2 separate regions of the Homo sapiens genome follow, and region 1 is linked to region 2. Evidence: fine-mapped expression QTL. A gene starts in region 2. The other region holds a variant in brackets. All regions are shown on one strand. Distances are between the middles of the regions.

Region 1 (17,392 bases), 44 kb after region 2:
AGCTACTCGTGAGGCTGAGGCAGGAGGATCATTTGAGCCCAGGAGGTCAAGGCTGCAGTGAGCTATGATAGCACCACTGTACTCTAGCCTGGGCAACAGAGCGAGACTCTATCTCTGGAAAAAGAAAAGAAAAAATCTCCAAAGCAGAAGTTGCAAACTGTTTTATTTCGACCACATGTCTCTGTTTTGTTTAGTAAAAATCAGGGGACTCCAACTTCTTTTTAAAGTATCAGAAGATCTGGCATCGCTCTCCAGGTGGCCCCAGCTCTCACATTCCTTACTGATGCCTCAGCCAGAAGCCAGTGTTGGCTACCGATCACCCTATATCTGGGGTGTTATTTTTCTCATACACGAGTGCTTTCACTCACTTGGTCCATGTAGGTTACACTAAAAGCACGTATACATGATGGAAAGGTACAGACCCATGAAAAGCTAAAATAATTTTGAAAAACAAGAGAGTAGGAAGACTCAGTCTGCACAGTTTCAAAACTTACTGTAGTATAGTCTCAGTAAAGACTATGTGGTATAGACATGCAGATCAAGGGAACAGGATAGGGAACCCAGAAACAGACCCACAGAGATATGCCCAGTTGATTTTTAACAAAGATGCAAAAGCAACTCAATGGTGCTGCAGCAATTGGAAACTCATCACCAAAAAGGGAAATGCTGACCTGAACCTTACCTTCTAAAATGGATATGGACTTACATGTAAAGTGCAAAACTAGAAAATATATTTGAAAAAAATAGAAGAAACTTGTCAGGATCTAGAGCTAGGCAAAAAGTTCCTATACATGACATCAAAAGCAGAATCCATTAAAGGAAAAATTGGTAAATTGGACCTCATCAAAATGAAAAACTCTTGTTCTGTGAAAGCCCACATGAAGATTGTGAAAATACAAGCTACAGACCGGGAGAAACATTTACAAACCACATATCCAATAAAAGACTGGTATATAGAATATAAAAAGAGAGTGCTCAATACTCAACAGTAAAAACGAACAATCTAATTAGAAAATGGGCAAAAAACATGAACAGATATTTCACCAAAGAGGATATATAAAGATGGCAAATGAGGATATAAAAAGATATTCAACATCATTAGCCATCAGGGAGAAATGCAAATTAAAACAACAATGATATATCACTACACATCTATCAGAATAGCTGAAATAAAAAAATAGTGACAATACTCATAACTGGTGAAGCTGAGGGAAAATTGGGCATCTCATACATTGCTGGTGGGAATGTAAGTGATATGGCTTCCATAGAAAATAGTTGAACACTTTATTAAAAAACCAAACACACAACTACCATAAAACCCAGGGATGACACTCCTGGATATTCACCTAGAGAAATGGAAATTTATGTTCACTCAAAAGCCTGTACATGAATGCTCATAACAGCTTTATTTATAACAGCCAAAATCTATAAAGAACCAAAATACAGGTGAACAGTTAAAGCGTGGTACATCCATACCATGGAACACTTCTCAGCAATTAAAACAAAAAACACTATTGATACTAAAACAACTTGGGATCCAGCTCAAAGGCATTATCCTGACTGAAAGAAAGCTAATCTATTTCAAAACATCACATACTATATGATTCCACTTATATAACATTCCTAAAATGACAAAATCATAGAGACATTGAACAGAGTAGTGACTGCAAGGAGTTGCGGGGATGGGGTAGGGAGGAAGACAAGTGTGACTATAAAGCGACAGCAGGAGAGAGGCCTTTGTGGGGATGGAACAGTTCTCTATCTTCATTGTGGTGGTGGCTAGAGGAATTTTATTTTATTTTATTTATTTTATTTTTTTGAGACAGACTTTCACTCTTATTGCCCAGGCTGGAGTGCAATGGCACGATCTCGGCTCACCACAACTTCCGCCTCCTGGATTCAAGCGATTCTCCTGCCTCAGCCTCCCGAGTAGCTGAGATTACAGGCATGCACCACCACGCCCGGCTAATTTTGTATTTTTTGTAGAGATGGGGTTTCTCCGCATTGGCCAGGCTGGTCTTGAACTCCCAACCTCAGGTGATCCGCCCGCCTCGGCCTCCCAAAGTGCTGGGATTACAGGTGTGAGCCACCATGCCTAGCTATGTCATATTCTTCTTATCCAGCTTTATTACAGTGATTGCTTTTTACATGTCAGCCTTTAAATTAAAGACTCAGCAAAGCTTACTAGAGGCAGAACCATTCCAGCTGGAAAAGTTCAAGAGTTGCCATCCCAAAGGTTGGTCTTTCAGATGTGCTTATCCAACAAGACGTTCCTCTTTACGATGACTAAGAGTCACTATCACGCTTACCCAGAAGTTGCAAATGATGACTAAGAAAAACGGAAACTTCCAACGTGGTAACTAAAGTACACACTTGCAACAGTAAGTTTTCCAAAAGCAAAGCACAATTTTCTCCACCGTGAACTTGTCCCTGAGCCACCCTGTCTTCATGAGACTCTCAGAAAGGGAGGGTCAGCTCTCTGTGACCTCATCTTACAGAACTCCTTCAACTAGTCCCCATGTCTCCTCATTACTGACACATCATAGGAGAAAAGATATGCAGACATATACTGTCAGTGACATGAGTAATGCTGAACAAATAATAAAGGTCAAAGGTACTAGATTCTATTTCTCAGAGTTCAGTTCACAACCTCCACATCATCCTCTCAAAGCAGCCACCATCATCTGTAGTGGATATAGGAGGCCACAGAGCTATGGCAGGCCTGCCCCTGACCAGTGACAAGGCAGGGCGGAAGTGGCTCTGTTAAGGATGACTGCTGGGATTCAGGAGGAGCCAGGGAATAAACACTCACCCAGGACTCCATGTCTGGCCTTTGTTCTGCAGCCTCTGGCCTTTAATCAGACAAAGTGCTGGAGTGGCAATGCCTGCCGCTCTGAAAGCCCCTTCAGAGGAAACATCTGCAGCAGGGTTCAAAGGGCAGAGGCAGTTGCTCAAAGGAAGCTGGAATTTAAAAAGAGATGAAAAACAAACTTGGCGGGGGGCGGGCGGTGGCGGGGGTGAATAGAGCAGGGGCAACTGAAGTTGGCTTTCTAATCCAAACAATTAGATTAAGTGACAGTGAACATAGGAAAGAACAAATATTTGCTCAGCCTACTGTTAGGCTCTTTGCCAACTGCTCCCACGTGGAGACTTAGAAAGCCAAGTCCAAGAAGGCGAGATGATGCCAGACAGCTGCCCAGCAAGCCCTGGCCCCAGGTGCTCGCAAATTCCCTCTCTTTGCATGGGCAGTATCCTATTCCACTTTGGGAAAAAACAAGAGAAACTGAGAAAGCCAAGGGTATTCTGAAGTATTAGAAAGAGATTAGCACTGTTTAACCACAAATGACAGGAACTAGGGAGAGAGGAAGGCCTAAGAGCCAGGATATTCTGGCAGGTACTGTCTTAAAATCATACATTAACCAGGTGCTTTGCTTCTCAGGTACTAAATCCATCTGGGAACACATACATCAACCTAAAGGCCAAGTCTCTAGAGATCCCTTCCCAACGAGCTTTTTCTACCCCATGCTCTCAGTACACATGCAAAGGCTTTTGCTTCCACTGGGGAAAAAAAACAACAGGAAACTCAAGTAGCACCGTTCCACACAGCAGAAACACAGGGCTGCAGATACCTGGCACTGAGTCCCCACACTGCCATTAAACCAGTGCCGGAGCTGTGTGCAAATAACAACACTCGTTAAATCAAATGCTCATCCCCATTCTGTGGTCAATATTTGAAGACATGAAATGGTTCAGAAACCTGTCTGAGCTTAAAGGATGAGTAAGCCTCAGACTCCAGAAGTTAAACTATAAGCATGGACTTTGGAGTTTGTGCAGGTACATGGAGAGAATGCAGGTGCTGTGTCCCTCACATAAAGGCTGCCTCTGCACTGTGCAGAATATTCAGAGATGATGGCAGGTGCTAAGGAGGAAAATAAAGCAGAAAAGGCCTCGCAAGGAAGATAACTTTTGAGGGAAAACCTATTATGTGTTTTGTTCATGTATATTTCTTCATATGAAAGAAAAAAAGAAAAGCAAGACTATGTTACGAAAGTTCCTCTTCCCCTCCTCTGGCGTCACTTCCCCTACCCCAGCCAATTTTGGAAATATGGCTATTTAGTCTTGCCTTTCTACACTCCACACCCAGAGTTCTTTTTTAGCAACACTGAAAGGTTAGAGACAACTCACTGCTTAGGAGAAAAATCTCTGCATCAACTAATTTTGTCTCCCCTCTTGACACTGTCTCAGGACATTATTGATTGTCACAACTTAGCGGCGAGGTATTACTTTTTACAACAGAATTATCAGACCCAAAGTGTTAACAGTGCCCAGGTTGGCAAACTCCAATTTAAGGGAATTGATCTTAACCTGAAATATCTGTTCCTGGTATTCTATTATACTTCAGTGTCTTGTGTAGGGAGAACAAATGAGTTAGAAAAGAATAGAACGTTCATGATGAAACTCAAATCTGCTTAGCCACAATAAAAGCAGATTCTTATCTGCAAGGTATCCTAAGCCCTTCCAGTTTTGAAAAAAAAGTCATGAAAGGCCCAGGGCGCTGGATCATACCTGTAATCCCAGCACTTTGGGAGGCCGAGGCAGGCGGATCACCTGAGATCAGGAGTTCGAGACCAGCCCGGCCAACATGGCGAAAACCTGTCTCTATCAAAAATACAAAAATTAGCCAGGCGTGTTGGCAGGCGCCTGTAATCCCAGCTAGCTGGGAGACTGAGGCAGGAGAATCGCTTGAACCTAGGAGGCAGAGGTTGCAGTGAGCCAAGACCACACCCCTACACTCCAGCCTGGGTGACAGAGCAAAACTCTGTCTCAAAAAAAAAAAAAAAAAAAAAAAAAAAACAAAAAACAGAAAAAAGTCATGAAGTTCCTGGAAGTGAAGGACAGGAAAGGCAGACTGGCTGAGACCACACCACATACTGGGGAAATTGGGCAGAGGACTAAATAATTTGAAAATTACACTTTACTTTCTAGTATCAGTTCTGTGAAAAGAAAAGCCTTGAACGGAACCATTTCCTTTGCAAAGGAAACAGCAAGATCCAAGTCTGCAGCGAAAGTTCTTTCTCAGGTGAAATTATAACTAGTCAGAAGCAGAGTCAGTGATCATGCACACCGTAGACTCAACCTCCTGCCATCGCAGAAGGTGCCGCACTCGGCATGCACCTTGGTGTCCGTGCACAGGCTGTTCCCTCTGCCCAGGTACCACCTGCCAGTTACAGCCTAGGTACTGCGAAATGCAAGAGCCCACTGTGCTGGGTGCCCCTCCTTGCTCCACAGCGCTCCACAGCTGCTTCTATCACATCACCACCACACTACTGTATTTGTTTCCATGTCTGCGTCCTTCCTTATTTGCCTCTTAGTTCCAGCAGCAGACCTGGAGTAGGCAACAAACAACACTGCGTCACACTCAGTGACCACCAGCGGGGAGTAATGCTGCATGTGATGGCCTAAGAACCAAGAAACAGGTTTTCTTGGTGGAAATTTGCCTGGAGCCTGACTTATCTGTTAGGTGATTTTTTTTTGATGTGGGATAGGCCCAAGAGAATTTTCAGGGATTCTCAACCAATTGCTTCAGGTCCTGGGGAAAGTGTTGCTTCAAACAGGCCCGAAGAGAAAAGCAGTATTGGGAATTTTACAACTACTTTTATGTGCATTAATGGATACTGCTGTGAAGAACAAGGCCAGAGAGAGCTAATAAAATTAGTTTCTCCATTAACCTGCCTAGACCACATTGAAAAGAAAAAAAAAATTAGTTTATCCAAGGAAGGAGATATACTTAAATAGGGGAGATAGGCTACATTCAAACCTATTGCAAAATTACCTTTAGACAATATTCTTTCAGTATTAAATGTGGATTATAATTGGAAGTGAAACTTTGTTTTGAATCGGTAGCCTTTTTCCATAAAGTGACACCTTTAAATGAAACTTTCAGCAAAATAATTTTATAATTTCTATTGAAGCCAACAACTTCCTCACAGGTTTTCCTGCTTCAAATCTTGCCATTATAGGAAAACTTTCTGACTGCTACTACTGGGCAGGCAGCTCCTAGGGAGATACTGGGTCATTACCCTGGATGTCCCAGTGTGGCTCAAGGTCCTTGTCAAGCATTATCTCATGTAAATGTTGCCACAACCTTCCAAACTTGCCAGTTTCATAAAGGAGAGAAACCTAAGGCACAGAGAGCTTCAGCAGCTTGCCCAAAACCATGCAGCAAGTGAAAGGCAGAGCTTGCTGCTGCAGCAAAGACTGGTAAGAGCCCCAAAGGGAAGGTGAACCTAAAGAAATAAGAATCCGCAGGTTGTGGAGTCAAGCCACACTTCATCGTGTGAAGAGTCTCCCTCAGATGCTCACTTTGGCACAGCTGGATACTATTTCATTCAGGGATTCAGTAAGTTTTCTTATTTGATCTTCTTCAAATCCGTTAGTAAAAACCAAACAAATTAGCTAACTGGTAGACTATCTCCAATATTACAGTATAAACTCACAGCCCCACAAAACGTGCTGTTTACTCAGAGGTTGTGCCCACAACATAACACTGGTGGTGACAGGGCCTCTTTTCAAAAAGGCACAGTCTTTCAAGCATGCCCATAAGGGAACACATAGGTTTACATAAGAACCCCGACACAAAATACATCATACTGTAGGATTCTATTTATATAAAATTCCAGAAAAGGCAAATCTATAGTGACAGATCAGTGGTTGCCATGTTCCAGGTGGAGGAAGGTGACTGACTGCCAAGGGTCACAGGGGAACTTCCTGGAACCTTGAAAATGTTTATTCTTTGTCATGATTGTGGTTGTCGTTACATGACTATATACATCTGTCAAATGTCATCAAACTACACAATTAAATTTCATGAATTCTACTGTATGCTAAGTGTACCTCAATAAGACTTCCAGAAATAAATAGATTTTTTAAAAATAGTTGAGGCTCAGCCAAGTGAGTACTGATTGTGGGGAAGAAAAAAATCACAAGTCCAAGTTTATGGGGAATCAGGTAACAGAACTTGTAATTTTGTCTCATCATCTGTATAACAATAGCATCTTTCATGCCTGTATTATTTCTGCACTCATTTAAACTCAGGCTGTTGCAATCCTGATTTGAAATGACAGGCAGGTGTGAATGCCTCACTCGAGTGGAATATAAAGGGTAAGGCAATGCGGTGCAGCAGACACAAAATCTAGCCTCAGTTCTGATGCCCATTACTTGTTTCCTTGAGTTAATGCCACTTAGCCCAAAGAGTCTACAGCTCTACTGCTTGCCTTATGTTGCAGGGACCTTCAGTTTTTTCATCTGTGAAATCGGAGGGTTACTGTAAATCCCAAATGTCCATCTCTTCAGTCATTTATTAATTTAGCAAACATTTCTGAGGACCCACTTATTGGGCACTTAAAGAAGTGAGTATGACACGGCCCTGCCCTAGAAGACCTTGCAGTCTAGGAAGGAGGTTCATGCTGTGACTTCTGAGCTTCTGCCTGGCTCTCTGGTTCTCTCTGGACATTTTCCCCTTGGG[A/T]CCTGGCCAGCATGCTGTGAGGAAGACCAAGCCACAGGGAGAGGCTGCTGGTTGATTTTCTGGCTCATGGCTCATGGCTCCAAATGAGTAAGTGAGCCGTGTCCCCACCTGACAGACCCTGAGTGACGACCACCTTGCTGGGCCCAATCAAAACGAAATATGAGAGACAAGAAAATGCTCAGTGTTGTAAACCAGCGAGTTTGGGAGAGATTTGCCAGTAACAGATAAGCACAACCTACCCTTAGGGCATCTTTGAGGACGGAGGTTAATAGCTATTTACCAGCCATCCATCCCTGGAATCTGGATTCCTTGTTCCACCCGCAAATATACACTGGCCACCCTCTTTGCACCATAGCACAAGGGGACCTGCCTAAATGAAGAGGAACAGTGAGTGAGCTCTTTAGAACCAGAAGCTGGCTTTTACAATCATTTCTGCTGACCCAAACACAAGCACTTCAACAACAACCAGGCAGACCTACTCCTTGATGTGTTCCTTAAAGACTTTCTGTTACTCTGACTTCCGTCCACGAGGAAGTTTTCCTTGCCCTTAATAAGCGCACTGTCCAGGCCGCTGCCTCTCCTGATTTCCAACTGGAAGGACTGCTGGGGGCAAGGATCCACTGCACCAGCAGCCCGGTACGAACCCGGCCGCGCGCTGGCCTTGTCCTCACCCCGCCGGCTATCGCGGTCTCCGACCTATGGCCAGGACCCGCAAGGACAGGCCCCCCGGGGACAGGGACCGGGACAGGGAAAGTCCCGAGATGAATGGCCGAGCCCCGGCCCAGCGCCCTTGGGACTAGCGGGGCCCGCTCACCTCTGGCCGACTACGCTTCTGCAGCAAATGCTCCAGGTAGAGGTCGGAGAGCGCCGTGTGCATGCTGCCCCCACTCTCGCCCTCGCTCGCCTTGAGGGTCATCTCGCAGAAGCTGGAACACTGGAACGCAAGACAGGGCAGCGCTGGGAATGACAGGGCCCGGGGCCTGCGGGGCTGCGGAGAAGGCGGGAGACGCGGTGCGGCTGGGCCAGTCACCGCCCCGCAGGCGGTGCGCCGGGAGGGCGCGGACGGAGCTCCGCCTACGGCCCGCCCACTCCTGCCCTCGCTCCGCCCATGGAAGTCTCCCACGCCCCGGACTCCGCGGCTCCCTGCGCTCCGAGAAGCGGCCCTTAAAGGGCCTGAGGAAGTCGTAGCTGTAGGTGGCCGCGTGAGATGAATGCCAGAAAGATAAGAAAGGGGAGGGGGCCCCCAGCTTCTGGGTGGTTGAGCACACGGCCCACGCCCCGTTGGGCCTGAGCCGCCCGGGTGCCCTGGCCAAATTCGTGGGGATTGCAGGGAGGCAACAAGGGAAATCAGAATCGGCCGGCTTAGTGGAGTTCAAAAGATGTAGGTGAACTCTAGACTCTTCCCATAAATTGATGCGGGCGCAGCATTACCCTTTGAGATCTGGACATTGCGAAAATGCCTTTAAGGCTGCTGTGCTGCTGCACCCTGTCATTTAATTGTTGTGTGCTGTTTGATGATGAAACATCTTATTGCCTTCAAAACCAAACTGTTTTTACTTAGGGCAGATCTCCTGCTGTAAATGCCACAAAATTTTTCCGGCTCAGCGAAAGCAAAGGCAGCAAACATTCCTTAGTAACCCTAGAGGAGGATTCCTTAGCATCCTAACGCATTGGAGACATTCAAACACCAGTCACAGCGATGGAAGGCTTTCTGAACAAAACAAACATTTAATGGGCTTGTACGGCTCTTGGTCCCCTACCCCAAGCTAGTAGCCTCACAGTATTAGAAGCAGTTCATCACTACATGTAATCTTATTCTGACCTTCCTCAAAGCTTCCTGGGAAGGAGGAGCTCATAGCCAAGAGGAGAAAATCCAAGGGCAACAGTTTAGAGCTGCATTGCCCAGTTTTCTCTACCAAGAGGCCGAACTCATGTGAATGACGGTTCCCTTCCTCAAGATCACTCTAAACGAACGGGGGGGGAGGGGGGGGTGGGGTGGGGGGGGAGAGATTGAAATTAAGACTGTGATATTGAGGCATGGATAGATTAATTGAGCAATGGCATAGAATAGAGAACCCCGAAACGCAACCATGCAAGTATAGAAATGTGGTATATGATAGAAGTGGCATGTTAGGTAAGTAAACAGGGACATTTTATTAACTGACGCTGGAAAATGGTTATTTATATTGGAAAAGATGAAATTGGAATCCTCATTCATGTGATATGGAAAATAATAATAATCTATTCCAGATGGATTAAGGAATTAAATGTCAAAAACATACCCTTAAAGCTCTTGACAGGAAACATAGGCAAGGAACTTTTAGACTTTGGGATACAGATTTCTAAACAATGTAGACAAACCATTGACCATAGAATGGAATAGTGGTAACTTTGACTTTAAGAATTTTAATTTATGAAGACACCATAAAGAGCAAAAAACACAGCTGTGCATTGGGAGAAAATATTTTCAATACAGATAAGTGGCAAGGAATTCCAATTGCGAATATATAAAGGACTACAAATTATTAAGAAAAACACAATCCAGTAAAGAAGTGGGCAAAACACATGAATAGGCATTTCACCAACAGAGAGACGCATATGGCCAATAAACATACATATAAAGAGATGTTCGACATCATTAGTGATCAGGAAAATGCAAAGCAAAACTACAATGAAATACCACTGTTCACCCATTCAGTTGTCAAAAATTTAAAAGTCTAACAGTACCAAGTGTTGGGGAGGATGTGAATCCATATGATTTATTGAATATTGCTGGTGGGAGTCTAAATTGGTACCAGTTGTAAGGAAAACGGGTTTCCATTATCTCTTACAGTTGAACATACATCTACCCTCTGAGCCAGCAATTCTGCTCCTAGAGGGAACAACTATTCCCAGTTTGGTCTGTAACCTTCCAGGTCTCCCTCTGTGCATCTGCAAAATATTCAGGACTAGAGTTGCCTTGTTTGTCCAGGTACGAAAACCATAGTATGGATGGCCTTGCTCCAATTTATACTCCTTCCATATTTTCTCAGCCTTATCTACTTCCCAGGCGATCAGGCACTTGATCAATGGAAATCCCTGACTGCCACTGACGTTTTCACATCTCCTGACACTTCTGACTCCTTCACTTTTCTAAAGTGAGGGCTAGGTTCTGAAATGACCTCTACTGCACTCACTGCAGCAGGAGCTTCTGCACTCAAGCTCATCCTGACCAGATCCATGGAGGCTCTGATGACTCCTACCACTTTTGGATTCAGGATTGAACTGTGGTGTGTGGGATCTGGCTTTCCTACTGACTACCAGGACCAAGGTAACACAACTCAGAGGTGTGAGGAAACTAACAAACACCTAATAGGGTGAACTTTGACCACTGACAGAAATGAGACAAACACCCGTAGGCAGATCAATTCCTTTCCTCAACCATTTCAAGATGGTGTGATTCTATACAACTCTTCTGGAAGCATTCAGGAAGACTGTGAGATAAGCTGTGTTTTCTTGAGTAACAGTGGCGAACTCAGTAGCACACCAAAGTATATTTTGTTTCCATCCTTCCCTACCTCACTTCATTTATTCCCTCACTCTTACACCCATGGGATTGCATCCTTCACTAAAGATTTACCACATATGTTTTGCTCCAGGCTTTGCTTTCTACCAAACATAGGCTAAGAAAACAGGTGTCAGAAATGGGGTGGCCTCAGAAAACAGACCCTCAGGATAGGACTTTTGCTATACAAATACATGGACATTAAATAATCTGCTCTTGAATGGTATTTGGGTCAACAATGAAATCAAGATGGAAATCAAAAATTTCTTTGAGCTGAATGATAATAGTGACACAACTTATCAAAACTTCTGGGATACAGCAAAAGTGGTGCTAAGAGGAAGATTCATAGCATTAAATGCCCATATCAAAAAGTCTAAAACAGCACAAATAGACAATCTAAGGTCACATTACCCGACTTCAAACTATACTACAAGGCCGTAGTTACCAAAACAGCGTGGTACTGGTATAAAAATAGGCATGTAGACCAATGGAACAAAATACAGAACACAGAAATAAAGCCAAATACAAACAACTGATCTTTGACATAACAAACAAAAACATAAAATGGGGAAAGGACACCCTGTTCAACGAATGGTGCTGGGAAAATTGGCACGCCACATGTAGATAATTGAAACTGGATCCTCATCCCTCGCCTTGTACAAAAATCAACTCCAGATGGATCTAAGATTTAAATCTAACACCTGAAACCATAAAAATTCTAGGAGATAACACTGGCAAAGCTATTCTAGACATTGGCTTAGGCAAAGAGTTCGTGACCAAGAACCCAAAAGCAAATGCAACAAAAACAAAAATAAATAGGTGGGACCTGATTAAACTGAAAAGCCTCTGCACAGCAAAAGAAATAATCAGCAGAGTAAACAGACAACCCACAGAATGAGAGAAAATATTTGCAAACCATGCATCTGATGACAAAGGACTAATATCCAGAATCTACAAGGAACTCAAACAAATCAGCAAGAAAAAAATAACCCCATCAAAAAGTGGGCAAAGGAATGAATAGACAATTCTCAAAATATACAAATGGCCAATAAACATACGAAAAACTGTTCAACATCACTAATTATCAGGGAAATGCAAATTAAAACCACAATGAGATGCCACCTTACTCCTGCAAGAATGGCCATAATAAAAAAAAATCAAAAAAGAATAAATGTTGGTGTGAATGTGGTGAAAAGAGAACACTTTGACACTGCTGGTGGGAATGGAAACTAGTACAACCACTGTGGAAAACAGTACCGAGATTTCTTAAAGAACTACAAGTAGAACTACCATTTGATCCAGCAATCCCACTACTGGGTATCTACCCAGAGGAAAAGAAGTCATTATTTGAAAAAGACACTTGTACATACATGTTTATAGCAGCACAATTTGCAATTGCAAAGATATGGAACCAGTCTAAATGCCCATCAACCAACAAATGGATAAAGAAAATATGGTATATATACACCATGGAACACTACTCAGCCATAAAAAGGAACAAAATAATGGCAACTCACAGATGGAGTTGGAGACCACTATTCTAAGTGAAATAACTCAGGAATGGAAAACCAAATATTGTATGTTCTCACTTATAAGTGGGAGCTAAGCTATGAGGACAAAAGGCATAAGAATTATACTATGGACTTTGGGGACTCGGGGGAAAGGGTGGGAGGGGGATGAGGGACAAAAGACTACACATTGGGTGCAGTGTACACTGCTGAGGTGATGGGTGCACCAAAATCTCAGAAATTACCACTAAAGAACTTATCCATGTAACTAAAAACCACCTCTACCCAAATAATTTTGAAATAAAAAATAAAAATATTTTAAAAAGAACTCTTTAAAATAAATAATGAAAAGCACCAACAGACTTATGAACAGGCAATAGAAAAAATGAGAAATAGAAAGGAATACAAATAAAAGTACAGAAAAAAAATATGGCAAGTTATTCAACCAAACTGGTAATTTGAAATCCAGATTGAAATAATGCAAAAAAAAGGCAATTTCTGGCACCATGGCAGACCAGGTACCTGGATGATCTGTTGCTGAAAACAACTGAAAATGCTGGTTAAAATATATTAACACATTCTTGAATACAGTCATGGCCAAAGGAAGTCACATGACTAAGCCCACAGTCAAGGAGTGAGAAAGTATTCTCTACCTACCATGAGGCCAGGGCAAGGGTGTGCACTTTTTTTTTTCTTCTGTTCATTGAATACAGTCACTGTGTATTTTACATACTTTCATTTAGTCTTATGACAATCCTATGAAACAAGTACTTTTAAAAAAATTGAGATAACAGTTGCATACCGTGAAATTCATCCATTTAAAGTGAGCAATTCACAGGTGCAGCTAGCTCAGTCAGCAGAGCATAAGACTCTTAAAGTGAACAATTCAGTGCTTTTTAGTATATTCACAGAGTTGTGCAACCATCACCACTATCTAATTGGTCTTAGTCTGTTTGGGCTGCCATAACAAAATACCACAAACTGGATAGCTCATAAACAACAGGCATTTATTGCTCACAGTTCTAGAGGCTGGAAGTGCAAGATTAAGATGCCAGCAGATTCTGTGTCTGCTGAGGGCCTGTTCCTCATAGAAGGTGCCCTCTTGCTGAATTCTCACATGGTGGAAGGGGGAAAACAAGCTTGCATTGCAAAGAGGTGGGCCTCTTTAATCCCAAAGGCCCCACCTCTAAAAGGCCCCACTTCTGAATACCATTACATTGAGAATTAAGTTTCAACATAGGAATTTGGGGGAACACAAATATCCAGACTGTAGCATAATTCCAGAACGGATTCATCACCCACGGGGACCCCAGCCCCATGAGTAGTCACTCCCCATTCCTAGTCCCTGGCAACCACTAATCTACTTTCTGTAGGACCACTAACTGAATCTACCACAAGGGACTAATAAAAACCCTGCCCTGAGAATTCATAAGTATAAGTTGGCCCTTGCTCTGGTTGGCAGCTCAAAGTTGCACTACCTGAGTGACCTGACAAACCTTAAGTAGATAATTTAACTTCAAGGGTTTTCTTGACTGATAGAGCCCCAAGGTGCCTGGCAGAGCAAAATATGTCTTTTTGAAGGAGTCCTCATTGATACCAGACCTTAAATTCCATACATATTTATAGACTGATAAATCGCTAAACAATCAAGGAAACAAAGTCCCGTGAGGGAGATCCAGCAGAAACGATAGGTGACCAAATTGAACCAAAAACTTCAGATACTGAAATTCAAGATTAGTTAACACTAGAAAATTTATTAATCCAATTTACCATATTCATGGAGAAACTCATATTATCTCAGTAGGTGGAAAATATTCAATGTAATTCAATATCCATTAATGATAAAATATCTTTTATCAAATCTAGGCATAGAAAGAACCATCTTTAGTCAGGCACGGTGGCTCATGCCTGTAATCCCAGCACTTTGGGAGGCCGAGGTGGGTGTATTGCCCGAGGTCAGGAGTTCGAGACAGCCTGGCCAACATAGCTAAAAACCATCTCTATGAAAAATACAAAAATTAGCTGGGCGAGGTGACAAGCACCTGTAGTCTCAGCTATTCGGGAGGCTGAGGCAAGAGAATCGCTTGAATCCAGGATGCAGAGGTTGAAGTGAGCTGAGATCATGCCACTGCACTTCAGCCTTCAGCCTGGGTGACAGTGAGATTCTGTCTCAAAACAAACAAACAAACAAAAAAAATCTTCCCTCTTTAACCGATTTTAAAAAACTATTTGTAAAACATCTAAAATACCTACAACGAATATAGTTTTAAAAAGCTGAATGTATTTCCTTTAACATGTTGAACAAGACAAAGATGCCTCCCTCTATAACCACTTTTCTCTGTGTCGTATTGTAAGTTCTATCCAGCAGAATAAGGCAAAAGTAAATTATCATGGTATAAAGACTGGGAAGGAAGAAACAAAATTGTTGTTATCTATGGATATATTATTGTCTTTGTAGAATATTTAAAAATCTACAGATAAATTATTAAAATTAATAAATGCTATTACTAAGGTTGTTAGCTACAGTCATACAAAGAAATCAATTGTATTTCTATACACCAAAGATACACAGAAAATTTAATTTTAAAAGACACCATTTTGTTATGACATCTAAAATGATCAAATACCTAGGAATAAGTTGAACCATATATAGGTACTGTATGGAGAGAATTATAAAATTCTATCTGCATACATTGAAGAAGAGCTAAAAATTGAAAGAGAAACATGTTCATGGTTTGGAAGGCTTAATTTTATTAAGATGTAGGTTCTCCTGAAATTGGCCTATAGATTCAATGCAATCCTGGTAAAAATCTCAACAGGTATGTTTTGTGAAACTTGACAATCTAATTTCAAAATATGTGTGGAGTTGTAAAGAGCAGGACTAGCTAAAGAAGAACAAAGTGGGGGACCTGTCTTGCAGATAGCAAGACCTTAATAAAGCTATGGTAATTAAGAGTGTGGTATAGGCACAGAAATAGACCAATGGACCAGAAGGGAGAGGCTAGAAACAGATTTGTGCATATTTAGACACTTGATAAGGTGACATGAGACATCAATCAATATATGTAAGATGTACATTGGTTTCATCCAGTAAGGTGGGACAACTGAAATAGAGGAGGAAGCTTCCAGATCGTGGGTAGATAAGAGACAAATGGTTGAATTCTTTTGAGTTTCTGATTAGCCTTTCACTGGATACACAATTTACAGGAATAGTCAATATGTCTTGGTCTGGCTCAGTGCAACAGTAGGGCAAAAGAAGTAATCAGGTATGCATTTGTGTCATGTGAGTAGAGGGATGACTTTGAGTCCTGCCTGCCACTTGTTTCACAAGGAATTTCCTTGTGGGCAAATTGTGAGGGAGGTATGTAGCTTACTTATTTATTTATTTATTTATTTATTTATTTATTTATTTATTAATCTTTATAGCTATCTTATTTAGGAATAGAATGGGAGGGAGATTTGCCCAATGCAGTTCCCTGCTTGACTTTTCCCTTTGGCTTAGTGATTTTGGGGAGATTTATTTTCCTTTCATATTCTCCCCTTTTCTTTTTAAAATCTTTCGGAGAAAGCACTTTAGAAGAAAATGAGCCTCTGGTCTCAGGTTTTGTCTGATCTGTCGTGGCTAGGATGCTTTATTCCTAGACAGATAGGTCCCACATTATTAGGAAAGCTCATTTTTAGCAGGTTGTGAAGTCTCATGTCCTACAAAGGGAAAATAGGGGTAGGAAGAGAGAAAAACAACAACAAACAAACAAAAACTGAGGAACAATCCTGGAAAATCAATATAGGCCATATTCCTCTGAAGTCCATACATCAGTAGGCAGGCATGAAATTGGTTTATGTGTAATATGTAAATTGGTTGCTGTTGTTTTCTTCTGAAGTTTAAGTTGTCTAGCTTTAGTTTACAGAGCTTTAAGAAAGCACAGCTTAATTTTTAAATTTCAAATCAGGAAAAATGGGAAAAAAGGAAAGAATAAAAAATTGAAAACGTTATTTTGGAGACTTGTAGCCAGAAAAAATTTTAGAATTCAGCCCAAACTGTAGAAAATAATAAAAATGGAAAAACGTTAGGGAAGACCAGAATCTAATAACAGGTGTACCATAGTTTATTTTGAAACATAATTTTTCTCTCTCCAGTTCCATTTTCAGTAAAGACAAATCATAGGACAAATTCATTTGCAAAATAAGTTTTAGTCTTATTATACTTGGCTGGAGTAGTCACATAAAGTCAGCAAGAATAATTATTTGCCATATAGGCTCCTCTTTTTTTTTAAAATTGGCTTTGCTGGAACTTTATTCCATAAGGAATCTCAGATTTGAATTTAATGTCTTAAGCCCAGCCTATGTCTGCAAATACCTATGTTAATTGGGTGAATTCCTTACCTCGAGGTTCCAAGAAAACTTGGGGATCCTGGGCCAGTCAGAAAGTGACATTTTTCACTTACCACAGGTCAGGAACCTGTATAGGGACTGCATAGACAAGGTATGAGGCATGTTTTCCCAAGGGGCTTTTATTGGCTCTATAATTCAACTTTGATTACTTGAAGGAATCTGTATTTGAAAGCATGTTATTCCAGTCAAAACCTTGGTAGAATAACCAGTGTCTCCAATTGTGTCCTGTTACCAAAGAAAGCAGATTCTTACTGTACTTGGGCAAATAACAATATTGCCACAAGTTGAGAATACTCACAACTACTTTCCAAATTTTGGAGAAATCAGGTAGAGAGAAATGTGCTCCAAATTTTGTTTATAGGAATATATTTTACTTAATTGTCAAAAGTTTCAAAAAGTTTCTTTGGCTCTGAAAAACAAACA
Region 2 (8,241 bases):
CAACAAAAATGGCATGATGAGACTTCCAAGGCCGAGTCATAAAAGGTGATGCAGCTTTTTGCCTTTTTCACTCTAACCCTTGCTTTGGAGGTCCTGAGCCACCAAGTACAGACTCCAGCTAGTCTAAGGCTGCCACGCCATAAAGAGAGGCTGTGTGTAGTAGGTGCTCAAGTTCCAGTGGAACCCAGCCTTCCAGCCATCCTAGTATAGGCAACAGGCATGTTAGTGAAGAAGCTTCCAGAAGATTATAGCCTCCAGCCATCCTGTCACCCCTATCCATCAAGTCATCTCAGCCAAGACCTCAGACATTACAGAGCAAAGAGAAACCATTCTCACTGTGTCCTGTCTTGATTTCTCACCTGAAGAACCTGTCAGCACAATGAAATGGCTGTTTAATGGCACTAAGTTTGGGGATGGTTTGTTATGCAGCAGTAGAAACCTAAACTGTGGACATTAAACGACTGTGGATTACTGAAAGCATAATCAGGTGGTTATTTCAAGTGCTGCTACGGTTACAGGTGTGATCTATTTGCTAAAACAATTCCATACCTCTTCCAACATTCTGTAGGCAGCCGTTGATCTGGCCAATGATAAAATGGCCTGTTGAAGATTCTGCTGTGTTCCTAGTTGGGACACAACACTCTTGTGAGGATCTGGACCATACGCTGAACTAGAAACCATTAAATGGTGCAGTTTTTCTCATGGTCAGAATATAAGAGGTCTGGAAAACAGAGTTGAGGTGGGGAATGGCATATCTCACAGACATGCTGAATAATCTGCCTTCAGAATTTTTGCTTCTCAACCTCATGACTTTGTACCTGGCTGGTTTAGATTCTAGTACCCAAGAAAAACATGCTTCCACTTATGAGAATCGCTCCACTAACTTGCAAACAGAGCCACTTGGCCACTTCTGGCTCCTCATTGCCATTACCCAATCCTCCCCTCTCCAGCTGACTTCCAGTTACAACTCGTTGCCCAGAATTGTGCCGCATGGCCACCCTAACTGCAAGAGAGGCCAGTAAATGATGTGACAAAGGATCTGACTGGCTTAGAGCGACTGTGATGCTTGCCCTGCTGCTGGGCACAGTGCTGTCCTGGCCAAAACTGGGGCTCTGTTATGGAGAAAGAAGAGGAAAGGGATGTCTGTTAGGCAGCCAACTAACAGTGCTTACCACACATGACCTAGTGAAACGTTTTAGAAGCAGTATAACCCTACAGGACCTGAGGGCAGGAGAGCAGGCTGGGAACTAAAGAGCATCCATGCAGGGCATTGTTAGGGGCTTTTCTCTTAGAGTACAAAAAGATATTTAGAGCTATTGTTTCACATGCCTTTCTTTAAATGTGATTTTCAGTTTTTACCTCTGCCAACATCCACTAAAGTCTTATTTAATGGTATAACTTGGTGTGGTGTGGTGCTGTGAAGGTGAGAGATGAGACATAAACAATTTTGAGGCCTACCCTTAATGTTCACTCACCCCACTCTTTAAACCTGTTCTTTATTGAGTCCCACAGTCTATAATACCCTTCCAATAATAACAGTCTGTTTCTTGTACTTCCAAACAAAACATTTCTAAGTGGCACAAGATTTGGTACTAGAAGCAAAGTCTTCCATGAGTCTTGCATTCAGACAAATGCAAGAATTTTGTTTTGGTTACCTGGCTAGATGTGGTGAAAACAATGTGGTGAAAAATAATCTGGGATGGGAATCTAGTAGCTTACAGCATTTATTAGCAAAACACCTCCTTCAATCCTTGTACACTCTCACCTGAACTCTATCGTCCATTGCAGTTAAAGCTCTGGGATAGGCTTCTTGGTCCAGGCATCACCTCCACATGAACCTCTATTCCAGCGTCTATACCAAGAAATCAGCCTGATTTAAAATGATCTTCTCTCTTTTTGGGTCAAGAACCTTCACATATCATTTACATAAATATTACCTGTTTCCTGGTACATGTTTGCAAACTCCTACTACTGTTTTCATATGCAAGCTTTCTCCTGCTGCATGACTTAAATTGTTCAGTTGAGGCAATGTAGAGGTTAACTCTAGTTACAGGCCTGGAGACATTGGGGTGGGAGAGTAGGAGGGAAGTGCCTTTGCTTCCCTGCTAATTCCCTCATGAGACAGTAAGGGAACCTGCAATCAGATAAACGTGGGGGTTGTTTAACAATGGAGGCTCAGTAAGAGTTGGGGATTCTGGGGACTCCCAATTCTCCAATTTACTCCCATTTCAAATCCCAGTGTTCTATGCTTTTCTGATCGTGGCCCCAACCTTTACTAAGAGAACTGAGAAGGCTGCGAACTCACTGAGTTTTGTAATTTGGAAAGGTGATGGGTCAAAATTTTAAAGTTTGGTTTTTAGTTGTTTTATTCTTGTGCCTGTAAAAGATAAGTAATTCCTTAAGCATTGTTATAGAAATTCCCTCTGTGACCCAAACCAAAAATTCGAGGAATTTGGCTGTCATTTAGATGATCCCAAACCATCATGAGTGGCCATCCTATCCCACAATTCTTGAAATCCTGTGCAACCATCACCAAAATGTAATTTTAGAACCTTTTTTTATCACCTCAAAAAGAAACTCTGTGCCCATTAGCAGTCATTCCCCATGTTCCCCTAAATTCCTAGGCCAAGGCTACCACTAATCTGCTTTTTGTCTCTAGATTTGCCTAGTCTGGATATTTCCTATAAATGGAATCACACAAAATGTGGCCTTTGGTGAATGGCTTCTTTCACTCAGCATAATGCTTTCAATGTTGTATCCATGTTGTAGCATGGATCAGTACTTCATCCCTTTTTACGGCTCCATTGTATGAATAGACCACATTTTGTTTATCTATTCATCTGTTCATTTTGGTTGTTTCTACCTTTTGGCTATTGTGAACAGTTCTTCTATGAACATATGTGTACAACCATCTATCTAAAAATCCATTTTCGATTCTCTTGGGTCTATACCTAGGAGTAGAATTGGTGAGTCATATGGTAACTCTGTGTTTAACCTTTCAAGGAATTGCCAGACCATTTTCTAAAGTGGCTGCATCATTGTACTTGATGGTACTCATGGTTTGGTCAGACAACACCCAGTTTATCATGGGCAGGTCAGGTCTTAAGACCACATGTATCACAGTCATTCCGTTTCAGTAAATAATTACAGCAAGCCAGGAGCTTTTCCTCCTGGCAAATTATTATTTTTTGTGTGTGGAGGTCTTAGCTTTAAGTTTATTTCAAATTCCAGAGGGCTGAACTGTGAGTCTCTTATTAAAGCTTGGAAAAGGCTCTGTGTAGCATCCTAATGGGGTATGCCATCTCCAGAAAATGGCCCACTGAGTGTCATGCTTCTTTTTTAGCAAGCAGAGGGTTCCAAGTAAGGCAACTTGTCTTTCTCTTTGGAGGGACCGTCTCAACATGCCTCAGCCCACTGCATGCCCAGGAAGTTCACTGAGGTATCACCTCCCTGAATTTTCAAGGGGCTTCTCTCTCACCTTGTGGTGAAATATTTGCCACTTCCTATGCATCAGGTCCACTCAGCATGATGTCTTGGGGTACAGTGAGATGATCAAATCAGTTCCCAGGGACTCAATTATGATAATGTGCCAGAGGCTTCCTTTGTTCTTTCCTTCCATTATCACCCTCAGTCCTTGAGTCAGGAAGCCCCTCTGGGAATTTATCCAGCTACCAATTGTGTTTATTACAAGTATGGATTCAAGAACCGGGGAAAGAGCCACAGGGTGGCTGATAGTGAAAGGGACGTGGGCTGACTCCACTTCTGACCATTGGACCAAGTGGCATTCTACTTCCCCAGTGATTCACACGGGCTAGTGCAAGCCCCTGGTAAATGGCCACGGGTCCCACGAGAAGGGAGGAGGCAGGCTGAAAGTACACACTTGTAGCGTTACATGTGCCTGGCCTCACCTTTACAGGCTCACCTCACGGGCTCTGGCCTGTGGACTGACTAGATCTGGGAATTAGATGAGGCACCATGATTTTCCATTGTGGTGATTCAAGGCAGAATGCCTTTAGCCAGACCTAGAGTTACCGGGGTTATACAGATCATGATGGCTTACTACAGGACACTGTGATCAATTAGACACCACCAAAGATCCCTGGGGAGAAATCAGTTTGGTTCCAGCTTCCAGCCCTGCTGCCTATCATGATACCCAGGCTCATCCTGTTTCTATGAGATTTAGTGCCAGTGCTTTGTCTCTGCTGTTTGGCGTGAAGCCCGGTCGTAGAGTTCAAATTGAGGTGTGCTGTGAGCATAAACGCACACACCGGAAAGTCTTTGCGGGGACAAAAAAAAAAAACCAATGTAAAATACCCCATTCATACTGTTGTGTTTTGCCTATATGTGGAAATGATAATATTTCGGATACGCTGGGTTAAAAAAATTCATTATAAATCATTTTCACCTTTTTCTTTTTACTCTTCTTTCATGTTGCTGCTGGAAAATTTAAAAGTCAACATGTGGCACGCACACTACTCCTATTGGCCATCTGCTCTAGCTGGATGGGAACTGCAAGCAGCAAAGGCCTTTCAACCTCTCCGAGCTTCAACATGTTCACTTATGCATCAGGACTGATCCAACAGCAACCTGAAAGGGTCGGTGTGAGAAAGCAAAGAAAGAGGTACTGTTTACGGAGCGTTCAGCCGTGAGCCCAGGCGCAGGCGCGGAGCTAAACCCGGAGGTGAAGCAACTACAGCTGGGGCCACGCCCACAGACTCCGGGCTGTCGGGGCGGGCGGCACTCGCGCTTCCAGCCTGGGCCAACCAGGCTGCTTGAGGCTCGAAGCGCATGCGCGGTCTCGCCCTCCGTACTGGCCGAGCCAGCAAATCGCATTGCGCAGACGACCAGCGGGCGCCTCGGATTCCGCCCCCGGGATGGCCCCGCCTCCTCCCGCCCCGCGGCAAGGCACGCACAGGGCAGTGCGCGGGTGGGTGGGTCCTAGCAGCGCGGCCTGACGGGACCAAGGCGGCGGGAGTCTGCGGTCGTTCCCTCGGCTGTGGACCGGGCGGCACGCACGCGGTGCAGGGTAACATGGCGGATGCGGAAGGTAAGGGCTGCAGGCTTCCGGGCCGTGCTAACTCCGGGCGACTCGGGGAACGGGGGTGGGGGGATGGTATCGGGGCCCGCGCACGCCTCCCTCTGGTTCCCGCCGGCGTGTCGGCCTCTTCACCGCCCGGCCTTAAGCCGGCCTTGTCTCTCGGCCCTGGCTCCGTGGCAAGGGCGCGAGAGTGGGAGCCCCTCGCGGTGACTTGGCATGATGGGGCTCGGCCCTCTCACCTCCCTGGGGTCCGGGTCGCCGTCGAAAGACATCTGCCGTGCTGCCCACCCCGCGGTGGCGTGGGACGTGGCAGTGTCTGTGCTGCTGCCAGCCCGGACGCCGCCGTTACAGCTCCATGCGACTAGGGGAGCAAGGGTAGTGGAAACGGGCCGAGAAGAAAAGGAGCGGAGGGACCCCGGAGCAGGGATAGAGCTCCGAGTTGCAAGAAAGTTCTAGAGGCCACAAGCCCGCGGGGACAGTCGAGTGGTCGCTTATGGAACTTTCCGGCCCCCTGCGTGAGCGCTTCTGTGGGATGTTTAAGCTCTGCCATAGCCACGTGGTGAACCGGAAGGGAAGCCGACACGTGCAGTAGCCTACAGTCAGTTACCCAGCCATGGGACCCATACATTTGGCCTTACACACCTTGTTTTCTCGCTTACCTACGGATATACGTTCTAAGAAATGGGTCGTTAGGCGATTTCATCATTGTGTGAACATCAGAGGGCTCTTACACAAACCTAGGTGGCATAGGCTACTACACACCTAGGCTGTATATGGTGTAGCGTATGGCTCCTAGGCTTCAAACCTGGACAGCATGGTATTGTGCGGAATGCTGTAGGCAGTTGGGACACAGCGTCGAGAGTTTGTGTACTTAAACATGTCTAAGCAGAAAAAGGACAGTAAAAATATAGCACAGGGCCGGGCGCGGTGGCTCAGGCCTGTGATCCCAGCCCAGGCTGGCGGATCACCTGCGGTCAGGAGTTCAAGACCAGCCTGGCCAACATGGTGAAACCCCGTCTCTACTAAAAATACAAAAAATTTAGGTGGGCGTGGTGGTATACGCCTGTAATCCCAGCTACTCGGGAGGCTGAGGCAGGAGAATTGCTTGAACCTGGAGAAGGAGGTTGCAGTGAGCCGAGTTTCTGCCACTGCACTCCAGCCTGGGGAAAGAGTGTGACCGTCTCAAAAAAAAAAAATTATATATATATATAAATATGTGTGTGTATATATGTATATTATATATGTATGTATTATATGTATGTATATTATATATATATAGTACACAAGGTTATAAGTGGTGCACCCGTAGAGGAGGGCACTTACCATGAATGGAGCTTGCTGAGCTGGAAGTTGCCCTGGTTGAGTCGGTGACTGAATGTGAAGGCCTCAGACATTACACTACTGGAGACTTTATAATCTGTACACCTAGGCTACACTAAATTTATAAAAATATATTTTTCTTCAGAATAAATCAACCTTAGCTTACTGTAACTTTATAAACTTTTTACTTCGACTGTTGTAATAATACTTAGCTTAAAACAAACACATTATTTAGCTGTACGTAAATATTTTCTCTGCTTATCTCCTTATTTATAAGTTTTCTATTTTAAAATTTTTTAATTTTTTTCTTAAAAAATTTTTTTTTGTTAACTAAGACACAAACACAGCACACACAGTAGCCTTGACCTACACAGGGTCAGGATCATCAAGACATCACTAGGAGATAGGAATTTTTCAGCTCTGTTATAATCTTATGGGGGCCACCATCACATACGCAGTCTGTACTTGCAAAACATTATGTGGCATGTGACTGTAATTGTAGACCTAAAATCCATTTCCTACCTGCCCTAATTTCGGTCTTTATTTTAAACCCTTGTTTCATTTATTCTTGGGGAAAATTCCCAAATCCTGTGTTTGTTTTTTTAGTAATTATTTTGCCAAAGAAACATAAGAAGAAAAAGGAGCGGAAGTCATTGCCAGAAGAAGATGTAGCCGTGAGTAGTAATGTGTTTGACTTCACTTTGACTAAAAAGAAAGTTTACTTAAATAACAAACTAAAGGAAAGAAGTGTTTTTAAAGGTTTCCAAGGAATGGGCCAGCATTGGTAGTCATTGTGTAGATTCGAAAAAGCACTGAAATGACACAGCCCCAGACAGTCCAAGTGTCCTTCAGGCATAGCTTACTAAATGGTGCTGGCCTTACCAACTGCTGTCTCTGAATTTGTCTTCCTTATGCCACCCACAGACCCGCCATCCCCCTTTCTCTTTAAATGTTTGGACCCATCTTAGTGACATTTCACTTCCCCTCTGTACTCCTGGTTCATTTCTTCTCTCTCTTTCCCTTGGAGGTCCCAGTGAAAAGGCATAGGAAGCCTTGTTTTCTGTTTAAAAGGCATACATTTCCATGGCAGTAATGGAATTGTTCAAAATCGGGTGGGAAGTTTAATAGGTTATATTTCTGTCCTGTCGAAGGAAATACAACACGCTGAAGAATTTCTTATCAAACCTGAATCCAAAGTTGCTAAGTTGGACACGTCTCAGTGGCCCCTTTTGCTAAAGGTATGTGGTTAAAATCGTGCATCAGATGAATGCCTGCTTTTACGTTATTTCCAAGTGTTAAACAATTGATTGAGAATGCTTACTGCTGGCATCCTTGACTTTGGGAAGTGCCCACTGATACAGTTTAAAGCAGGATTCCTTAAGGTATCTGAAATGAGAACCAAGTTTTTAAAAAATTGGCAGTGCACTCAACACTGTTGTAGAACACATGTCCCCACAATGTTAAATTGCTGAGTTTGTCAACAGTTCTCAGTTTTTGTACTTAGTCCATCTTGCAGACCTATGCCAGTTTGTGGGCCACATAGTGGTACTGACTCTTTTTTTACATGTGCTCACGACATGGTATTTTGTTTTGTGTTGTGTCGTTGCTTTGTAGAATTTTGATAAGCTGAATGTAAGGACAACACACTATACACCTCTTGCATGTGGTTCAAATCCTCTGAAGAGAGAGATTGGGGACTATATCAGGTAAGTGTTGGGAGGAGGCACTGTGCAAACTTACTTTCTTTTGAAAATGCTTTCACATCAGCTATTCAGGAAGGCAGTGGCATGCCAGAATAGCTTTGTCTTGAATATATAACCTGTACCCGCAGTGAATTATTTTTCTTTTTAACTTTTCAGATTTGTTGTTTCACTGGAGCATTA

The links. PIP is the estimated chance that this variant, and not a neighbour inherited with it, causes the effect. A credible set is the group of variants that fine-mapping cannot tell apart.
Region 1: its variant is the best candidate, but not a certain one, in a credible set for the expression of DKC1 in whole blood (TOPMed, PIP 0.72).

What each region holds. Positions count from the first base shown.
Region 1 is chrX:154,796,933-154,814,324 of GRCh38, forward strand. MPP1 (MAGUK p55 scaffold protein 1) reads right to left here and starts at 8,553. Exons shown (of 12, transcript NM_002436.4): 1 at 8,340-8,553. The coding sequence starts at 8,441. RefSeq lists a silencer at 8,518-8,677. The variant A/T (reference allele first, on the strand shown) is at 7,526.
Region 2 is chrX:154,757,935-154,766,175 of GRCh38, forward strand. DKC1 (dyskerin pseudouridine synthase 1) reads left to right here and starts at 4,930. Exons shown (of 15, transcript NM_001363.5): 1 at 4,930-5,047; 2 at 6,965-7,032; 3 at 7,510-7,596; 4 at 7,973-8,064. The coding sequence starts at 5,032. RefSeq lists enhancers at 4,551-4,610, 5,361-5,460 and a silencer at 4,711-5,010.